2 separate regions of the Homo sapiens genome follow, and region 1 is linked to region 2. The links come from fine-mapping of genetic effects on gene expression. Tissue or cell type: whole blood. Region 2 holds a variant in brackets; the other region holds the start of a gene. All regions are shown on one strand. Distances are between the middles of the regions. Region 1 holds the start of EVC (EvC ciliary complex subunit 1). Region 2 overlaps EVC (EvC ciliary complex subunit 1).

Region 1 (5,063 bases), 21 kb before region 2:
GGCCCGCCCCGCCGCCGAGCATGCTCAGTGCGAGCCGCCGCCGAAAGTTTTCTGGAACAAACACCCGCATCTGGGGCTTGGCGGGCCAGGAGGTGCCGGACGGGCGTGGGAGGGGGAGAGCGAGTTGGCGCGGCCCAGGCGCCCGGCGGCCAGGCCTGGGTTTGCTTGCGCCCAAACCGAATCAGAGCGGGTCACTCCCCTGCTCCCCGAGGTTACCAGGACCCCAAGGGCCCCTCCGCTACCGCCTACCTGGGTCTGTAAGCCTCAGCTCAGACGCACTTCCCCTGGGAACGGTTTCCTGACACACGGATGTGAATCCAGAGTTTCCCCATCCCCGCTTAGAAAACGGAGAAGCATTTGGAGCGCGGGGCCGGGAGTCCTGGAGCACCCAGAAGGTTCAGGAAAGCTCGGGGAGGAGGGGGTGGCCGCAGAGAAGGAAAAGGACCCTCACTTCCGGTTGCGTTCAGTGCAGACCAGCTGAGCACCCACTGCCCGAGCCTGCTGTGGGTCAGCCCTGGGCCGGCCCGGGTGCCCCTCGCATTCCCAGTGGGAAACAGGCCAGCCGCTGGGCCACCTCTCTGGGGACCTAGAAAGAGGGGAGCTGGTGTCTGAAGTCGCAGCCCTAAGCAAGCTCTCCCTGAACTCTCCGAGGGGACAGGGATTTGCTTTGCCAAGGGACGCAGGAGGAGGAGGAGGAGAAAGACACAAAAAGGGGGACTGGTGGAGCCTTTTGTGTGCTTCCTCATCCCTGCCTAGGTCCTGGGTGACAGCTGACACCTGTTGACGGGGGAGGGCTCCACTCCCGCCAGCCTTCCTGCGGGGCAGGCTGTTAGGCTGTCTATAAAGTCTCAGGCCAGCGAGCCTGGCCCCTGGCAGCCTCTCTCCCCATAACCCAGACCATCCAAGGACAGGCCTTTCCTGACCTAACATGGACAAGGCCATGGGGTTCGAGAAGCTGAGAATTTATAAGCCAAGTTCCCCACACCAGGGGGTACGTGGCAGCTGTCAGGCATGTGACAAGACCACAGGCTAAATGCCAAGCATGTTGCTGGACCGTTGGAGTTGTTTGACAGTCAGTCATTTAAAGGTTAATTTAATAGTCAACAACTTTATGATAAAGTAAAAAGCAAATAACCCTACATTTAAAAAATCTCCTTAGTATTTTTTATGGAGTCAGGGTCTCACTATGTTGCCAAGACTGGTCTTAAACTCCTGGGCTCAGACAATCCTCCACTTGAGCCTCCCAAAGTGCTGGGATTACAGGCGTGAGCAACCACACCTGGCCCAAACACCACATTTTAAAAACTAAAGCCTAAGCATTCATGGAAATGTAAAACAAGAGCGTCAAGTTATTGCCCCCATACATGTCCCCAGGAACCTTGGAGATGCTTCTAAGGTAATATATAAGAAGCTCCACATAGCAGAGAGTTTGCCCTGAAGCCAGACACAGGTGTAAATGAGACAAGAATTCTGCCCCACTCCTTAATTGCAAATGAGTCACCTCTCCTCTCCAGCTGTCAGTTTCTTCATTTATTAAAAAAAGATGAAGAATTTGGATAACAGTTCCCATCTTGCCATGAGGAAATGATGAAACAAACTAGAAACAAGCTGGACATCTAGGCTGAAAGGACAAAGCCCTCCTCTGCTGAAGCAGATCCCCATGGTGTCCCCTAGCCCGGCCCACACAGGGAATTAAGCTCCACAGGGTAGGTGTGTGTGTGTGTGTGCCCCTGAGTGCAAGTGTGCAGTCGTGCATGTGCATGTGTGCTTTACCCAGGCACCCAGGACAAAAGCAAACATCTAGTAGCTACCCCATAAATGTTTGTTTAAAGCAAACACAGTGATGAACTCCTTTAATTTTTTATCACTCTAAACAACTGTGAGATACTCACTAGCCTGGACACTGCCTGGTTTGTGGCTGGCCTATCCCCCAGCCTGCAACACACACACAACAGATTCTCTCCAAGTGCTGAGTAAATGAAGGATGGTGCAGTGTCCTGGTCCTAGTGGGGAGCGGGTGTAAGGGTCTCTTTATCCATTGTCTCAGTGGGGAGTGGGTGTAAGGGTCTCTCTACCCTTGGTCCTAGTGGGGACTAGGTGTAAGGGTCTCTCTACCCATCGTCTCAGTGGGGTCTGGGTGTAAGGATCCCTTTACCCATCCTCCTAGTGGAGACTGAGTGTAACGGTGTCTCCACCCATTGTCTCGACCTTCCCTGGGACAAAATAAGATTAAAACAGGAGTCTTCGCGTGAGCAAGTTCAGAGGCGTGGAGGGCGGTGTGTTCCCGGGAAGGTTGATGGGTAGAGGTTAGGGGCAAGGGCAGGGGGTTGGAATTGCATTGATCCCAGCGTCTTCATCAGGAGGATGGGCGGAGCACCCACCGCAGAGGGTTATTGAGAAAGTTAATGAGATCATTAAGCTAAATGCGTAGCATATTCTAAGCCTCAAAAAACTTAAAGGAGCCTTCTAAGCCTCAGTAAAGTTAAAGGGGTGGAAACCGGGCCCCCCTCCGGAAGGGTCCGGGGCTGGGAGGCGCGTCTGTCTCTGGGCATGCTCAGTGCAGGGGCAGGGCTGGGGCGGGGGTGGCTGAAAGTTTTGAGCGGTGATCCAGGCTCCTCCCTCCGGCTCGGCGAAGCAGGGAAGGGGAGAGAAGCAGGAGTCGGGAGACTGCACAGGCCAGAAAGTCTGCGGAGCGGGCCGCGCCCCTGGCCCGCCCGGGCTCCAAGTCCCGCGTCGCCGCCCTGGCGGGGACGGTGCAGCAGGCGGCGGGATGCGGCGGGGCGGCAGCCTGAGCGCCCCGGATGGCCCGCGGCGGGGCGGCCTGCAAGAGCGACGCGCGGCTGCTGCTGGGGCGGGACGCGCTGCGGCCGGCGCCCGCCCTGCTGGCCCCCGCCGTGCTGCTGGGCGCCGCGCTCGGCCTCGGCCTCGGCCTTTGGCTTGGCTGCCGCGCGGGCCGCCAGCGCACGCGACACCAGGTGGGTCGGCCGAGCAGACAGCGGCGGGGCGGGGAGCGCGGGGCGCGTGGCTTCTGGGTCCTGCGGGCCCGGAGCCCCGGCTCTGCGACTCCTTGAGCCTGGTTGGGAACTTCGCACGCAACCGCTTAGGCGTCGGGTTCCCCTTCTGCTCCAGGAGGGAGGTGGCGGCGTGACTAAAGGGCATTGGCCTGGGGTCCCCTGCGGTGCCTGTTACATCCCACTCCGTTGGGTGATCCTTGACAGCAGCCCAACTGCGCCACGCCTCGGTCTCCTCATCTGCAGCACCAAGGGTTTGGACAGGACGCTGGCCCTGCTCGCCATGGTGGACAGAAGGACGGCTGGGGCTCCCACGCCTGAATGCCTATTCCTGCTTCTGCCTCTTCCATCCTTGCGGTGTGGGTTACGTCGCCTGGCCTGAGTCCCAGCTGCCACATTGGCATTCATTTTTTCATTCACCCCACAGTAAAAGTTTTCAGGCACCTTCTACAGCCAGTCACTGGCCTAGGGACGACATTCATGAGCGGGAGAGACCCTGCCTTGAGGCTGTGAACCTCAAGGAGAAGGACGAATTGCAAGTTTGCAAGTAAACTATCGGTTATGACACCGCATGGGGAGTCTGCGATGGGACGCTGGCAATGCTAGCGTTTATTAAGTGCTGTGTACCAGGCACTGAACTAGACCCTCTCCCTAAATGATCTCAATGAATCTCCACAACAGTTTGTCTCTGCTTTGCAGATGAGGAAACTGAGGCACAGAGAGGTTAAGCAACTTACTAAAGTGACAGAAGTGTCTAACCCCAAAGCCACTGTGTTCTTCATGGATGAGGGTCGGGGTGGCTGCCTGAAGGAGACCAGTGGATGCTTCCTATGCAAGTGGCCCTCATGGAATTGGCTGTGCATGGCAACACCTGGCATATAGCAGGCATTCCATGAATAGTGGTATGGCCACTATTTTAGGTCCTTGCAACTTCTGCCTCTTTGGGGTGGGAGGAGAGTAAAGTCTGCGCGATCAGAAACAAGATGGCGTGGTCTTGCTACCCCCATTTCTGGCCCGTGGGAAGATGAGACAGATCTTGTGCGGTTTCCATGTAGGCACAGGCTCTTTCAGAATATAGGGGAATTTGGTGACTCATGGGGAGCATTACACCGCAAAGAGCTGATGAGGGCTGAAACTGAGATAATGCAAGATGCTCGTAGGTGAGTTGGGGGTTGTCAGATCCTGCTGGTGATTAAGAGACACTAAGAGATGCTGGCTTGTTGCATGGAGAGAGAAAGGGAAGTAACACACAGAGACTTGGCTGGGTGTCCTGTGCAATGTTTATAGACATCTGGTTCTTTATCCTCCAGCCCATGAGGTGGAGGAACTGCCATTATCCCCACTTTACAGTGAGGCAGGGGATGCTCTGCAAGGGTGTTTGTCCAGGGTGCCACGATGAGTAAACAGTGGGACTGAATTTCAACCCTAGTTGGTTTGAACCCCAAAGCTAGAGCCTTAAGTATCTGCTACCTGGTGAGGTGGTGGTTAGTATCCCATTTGCTAGCTGAGTCAGCTGAGGCTTACCGGGATTAACCAAGCCATCTGGGTTTGCACAGCTAGTCAGTTGAGGGTGATGGTGGCTCAGACCAGGGTGGCAGCCATGGAGGGGTCTGTGGCTCAAAGTAGGACTAATAGGATTTTGTTACAGTTTGATGTGATCCTTGCGACAACCTTCTTTCTAATGAGATTCTTTTCCTCCTGTCTCCTCCCTCTAGTTTTTATTTATAAAATGTATGTCAGACAATATGATTCTCCTGATTAAACACCTCCAGTGACTCCTGGCTGCCTGCAAAAGATAATGCCCAGGCTGGGCACTGTGGCTCATGCCTGTCACCCCAGCACTTTGGGAGGCCAAGGCGAGCTGTTCAACTGAGGTCAGGAGTTCGAGACCAGCCTGGCCAATATGGTGAAACCCTGCCTCTACTAAAAATACAAAAATTAGCTGGCATAGTGGCAGGAGCCTGTAATCCCAGCTACTCAGGAGGCTGAGGCAGGAGAATCGCTGGAACCTGGGAGGCGGAGGTTGCAGTGAGCCAAGATCGCACCATTGCA
Region 2 (5,000 bases):
CCCAGGGACACGAGGTAACAGCACAGTAGGACAGCTCCCTCTCTGCCTTTTTAACACTAATACAAACACTGATACCGACTCAGTTCTGAGCGCTAATCCTCATTCACAGAGCCCTGGACTAATAATGCCAGCAGCTGGCACTTACTGAACACTTATGTGGACAGGGCCAGTGTTGTGTTAAGTATTTGTCATGCATCAGGCGTTTCAACTTGGTGTTATGCCTATCAGGTAAATAATGTCTCCACTTTACACGTAAGGAAACTGAGGCCCAGAGAGGCGAGTGACCTGAGGTCACGTGACAGGAAGTGGCAGAGCCAGAGTCAGACCCCAACACCTGGCTATGGTTACACCTTCCATGGCGCTTCCAGGAGCCCTCAGCCTGGGAGGTGCTTTGTGCAAAAAAGTTTCCTAGTGAAATAAGTTTGGGAAAATGTGGCTTGCTTTCTTGGTATTCAGGATGACGAGCTCTGGAGTCACAGCATCTCAGTCCTAACCCCATCTCAGCCATTCACTGTGTGGCGTTTCCTGACTTCTCCTGCCTCAGTCTGTTTATCTGTCAAATGGGGATGATGGTGCTCCTGCCTCGCCCAGTTGTTTTGGGTGTTACACAAGATAACATACATGAGGGCTCAGAACAGTGCACAACATCTGAGCACTCACAACATGTTAGGATCTTGTCAATTATTATTTGCTTTTGAAGACACCCAAAGCCTATTGGAGGTTCTGAGAATTCCTGCACCAAAGGAATATTTCACCTTGTTTAACACAAGCTTTACCGAACTAATTTTTCCATGGAAACTTTGTGGTGAGCAGTAACTGGCTCAAGGAGCTGTTCCCTGGAACCCACATTGGGAACCACATCCTTCACGTGGTTGAAGGGTGGGACGGGTGGGTGGATGAAGGGCATTTCTCCATCCTCTGGGTAGGCCCTGCGTGGGCCCTGGGGATCACGCCATAGTCAGCAGAGCGTCAGCCCCACCCTGGAGGCCCTCACTGCCTGAGTGGATTGAAATACACCGAGAATGCAGGACAGTGCATGATGAAATAGGCAAGAGGCAGATCCCCAGGGACCTGTGGAGCCAGTATGGGGTCCAGGATCCACGCCTGGAGGAAGGGACGCTTCTGCCCAGCAAACAACAAATGGGGGGTGTTTCAGGTAGGGGGACCAAAGTCTGGAAAGGCCAGAATTATGAAGTCACCAGGAGCGTCTAAGCCAGAGCCACTTCACTGTGGCTCGGGCAGCCAGAGGTGGAGGCTGACATTTGCTGGGCCCTCTAGCCATGCCAGGCCCCAGGCTGTGACCTCCTGTGGGCGTGGTGTGCATGGTGTGCATGGTGTTCCAGCTTCTTGATTAGGAGCGTGGAGCCTGTCGGTGGGCAGAGGGCAGGAGGGTGACTCCTGCTCTGTGCAGGCGAAGGACAGGTGGTTGGCAGGATTCGTGGAGGGAGCAGGCCAGGGGGTCAGCAGCAAGGAGAGAACTGGGTCAGGGCAAGCGGTGGCTATGGAGGAGGTAGGTCAGAGTTGGCAGCTGGGAGGAGGGTGCGCTGGGTGTCCGGGGCACAGATCCAGGTTGGCAGTTTAGGGGAAGGAACCTGGTGCAGAGGGGCTGGCCTTGTGAGGACAAGTGAACTGTGATTCGGGCCTCTGGGCTGTCGATGTGGCAGAACCTGGGACGGAAACTCTGTGGTGTCTGCTGGCACCCTGGCCAGTCTCCTCCAGGCAGACCTTCCTGTGAGCGGCTAGCGTGAATCACTGGTAGAATTATGAATACTAGATCAAATCCCAGAGGCATCACATGGACTGAGTGTGACTCCTACTGCCACCCCAGCCTCTGGCCGATGGCTCCTCCAACCCGTCTCTGCATGAAAACTTAAAGCAGGCTGTTTTGCCACACCAGCCGGTAGAGGCCTCTCCTTCCAGCAGTCTGGGGAGCCTGAGCCAGGGTGAGAAGGACGACTGCAGCTCCTCATCCAGCGTCCACTCGGCCACCAGCGATGACAGGTTTCTCAGCCGCACCTTCCTCCGGGTGAACGCCTTCCCTGAAGTGCTGGCCTGCGAGAGGTAAGGAGAGCGGGCAATGGAGGATGAGGCTTCCAGTCCTCTTGGAGTGGGCCGGGAGTCACATCATTGTCAGAGGAGGAAACAGAGGCCCAGAGAGGTTCAGTGACTCTGCCAGGGACACACAGCGACCCAGCGTCACCATCGGAGCCCCAGAGGCCTTTGTCACTTCCTGTGCTGTATTGCCCAACACTGGGGTTATGGAGTCAGGCCTGAGCCCCGGGGAGAGATGACAGGGAGGCCTCATTTAATCACTGGCGTGCTCCCAGCTACTGGCGAAGTTGATTAAGTGGGTACTTCTGAGTACCGGGCAGAGTGCTAAGCACTTTACAGGGATTGATGAT[C/G]TCATGAGGATTTTGCCCAGTGAGGGGGATCCTGGGACAAGTTCAGCAATCAGTAAATATTAATCAGTGAGTGAATGAATTCCGTTTAACACCCCTATGAAGTTGGTACTGTCATTTCCTCCAGTTCACAAAGAATAAAGGGAAACACAGAGAGGCTGCGTGACTTGCTGGTCACACAGCCGTGAGTGACGGAGCCGGATTTGACCCAACCCAGAGCAGGGCTCCGCACGTGGTGGGGGCTTAAGAAGCTCAGTCTGGCGGGTTCACACACCAGGCCTCAGGCCTCTCTCTGCTCCAAAATTCCGCTGAGTCCAAGAGGTGGGATGATCCAGGGCACAGCCTCTGCTCAGAGTTGCTGCAGAAACACTGGGCTCAGCACCTTGAGCCTGAAAGTGGCCCAGGCAGAAGGGACTTCGTTGAAGAGGGGCCTTCTTGGACTGGCCAGCCCTGGCTTAGAACGGCTTGCTTTCAGCATTTGGGACTTAGAGGATTTGAAACGGTTTGGGTGGGAGAGTCATCATTTAAAATGCATTTGCCTATGAGGGAAAAAAGGTCAAAGACTTTTACACTCTGCCATGTATCTGCCCCCGTTGACCCTATGATGGTCACTTGATTTGTCTGATTCTCTCTTCCCTGAGTCAGTTTCTGCATCTGTAAAATGGGCATGAGAATGTCTCTGCTAAGGCACCGAGGAAAGGTGACACGTGATGATAGACATGAAAATGCTTGAGGTTGGGCACCATGGCTCATGCCTGTAATCCCAACATTTGGGAGGCCAAGGTGGGTGGATTGCTTGAGCTCGGGAGTTTAAGACCAGCCCAGGCAACATAGTGAGACCCCATCTCTAAAATAAAATCCAAAATCAACCGGGTATGGTGGTGCATGCCTGTAGTCCGAGCTACACGGGAGGCTGAGGTGGGAGGATTGCTTGAGCCCGGGAGGTGGAGGCTGCAGTAAGCCGTGATTGTACCACTGCACTCCAGCCTGGGAGACAGAGCAAAACCCTATTTCTAAAAAGATAAGTAAATAAATTTTTTTTTAGAAAATACTCAAAGGAGGAAACGTCATTTTTATTTCTCTCCCTTCCCTCTCTCCATTGGTTTTCTCTTGGAAGTCCCAGGCACCTATGTCTCTGACACCAACTGTTCTCTTATGGCCATTAGTGGGTTTCAAACAGCTCATTTGATCCCTTCTTATAAACCTGGAGTGAGCGTAAGGACCTCAGCATGCTGCAGAATGAGAGTTTGAGGCAGGGTGTGCTGTGGCTTGTACTGATGAGGGACGTGCCAATATTCTTACTCTTCATTTCCGATACCCTGAAAGTCTTTTCCGCTTCTCATTTTATTTTGCAGTGTAGACGTTGACCTGTGTATCTACAGCCTTCACTTAAAAGACCTGCTGCATTTGGACACGGCACTGAGGCAGGAAAAGCATATGGTAGGTGGAGATGTTCGCATTCCCTCCTTTTCATGGGGACAGGAGCTGGGAGACAAGGACTCTGTGTGCAGTGAGTCCCAGAGACCCTTGAGAGGCAGACATCAGTGGAAACAGAGCCGCTGTGAGGTGGGGGAAAGCGGCGCTGTCAGGCATGCAGCCACAAAATGGAAAAGCACTTCACGCCTGTTGGTGGGGCATGGCCTTGACTTCAACCAGAGCTGTAGGGGCCTCAGCAGAAAGATGAGTGCCTCCTCCCGGGCTACACCTCCTGCTGGAGATAGAGATAAAAGATATTTAAAAGAGAACAATATGTTTAAAGGAATGATAATAATGATAAGAATATTTATGAGCATGAATTTTCTTGAGTCTTGCTATGTACGAGGTCCCAGGAGTATTACACTTAAACCTCAGCACAACCCAGAGGGGCGGGTGTCATTATCATGTCCACTCTGCAGGTGAGAAAACTGAGGCACAGGGCAGAGGATTTACCCAAAGTTATAAAGCTGCAGGAGTGGCACTGAGATGAGAAGTTCAGTACCTTTTCATGGGGCCACGTGTTCTCTTGACTGAATGAACAAGAACTCAGAACTGTGGATGTGGGGAAAACAACATTAGTCTCTGCCAGATGCACCTGGCCTCTGATTGAATCAGCCACGGACCTGAGCTATGGGAAGCCAGAGAGAGGAGTCCCACTTTAGCCGCAGAACCCCGGTGGGTTTATTCAGGCATCAAGATGACGGGGGTTAAAAAAAAGTGTTATTTCTCCATAAGGCACATTCTCTGAATTACTGAATGAGGAATGAGACCCTACAGAGAGAAGGCAGATGAGAGAAAGAGGAGAGCTAGAAACAGGTGGACAGACACACAGATATGTCTACAGGGCACTCTTACAAACTGGAGAAGAGCAAGAACATCACGTTGGAGGCCAGGCATGGTGGCTCACGACTATAATATCAGGGTTTGGGAGGCTGAGGTGGGAGGATTGCTTAAGCCCAGGAATTTGAGACCAGCCTGGGCAACATGGCAAAACCCTATCTCTACCAAAAACAAAAACAAACAAACAAACAAACACTTAGCCTGGTGCAGTGGTGTGTGCCTATAGTCCTAGGTACTCAGGAGGCTGAGGTGAGAGGAACACTTGAGTCCAGGAGATGGAGGCTG

Evidence for each region.
Region 1: it holds the start of EVC, and the variant in region 2 is fine-mapped to the expression of EVC in whole blood (TOPMed, PIP above 0.99).

The regions. Positions count from the first base shown.
Region 1 is chr4:5,708,580-5,713,642 of GRCh38, forward strand. It overlaps EVC (EvC ciliary complex subunit 1), which reads left to right and starts at 2,622. Exons shown (of 21, transcript NM_153717.3): 1 at 2,622-2,975. The coding sequence starts at 2,802. It also overlaps a transcript of EVC2 not described here. RefSeq lists enhancers at 1-539, 3,301-3,370, 3,956-4,265 and silencers at 20-69, 2,581-2,630, 2,681-2,830.
Region 2 is chr4:5,729,597-5,734,596 of GRCh38, forward strand. EVC (EvC ciliary complex subunit 1) reads left to right here. Exons shown (of 21, transcript NM_153717.3): 4 at 1,829-2,061; 5 at 3,755-3,839. Among named protein-coding and RNA genes, the nearest start is that of EVC, 21 kb to the left of the region's middle. The variant C/G (reference allele first, on the strand shown) is at 2,403.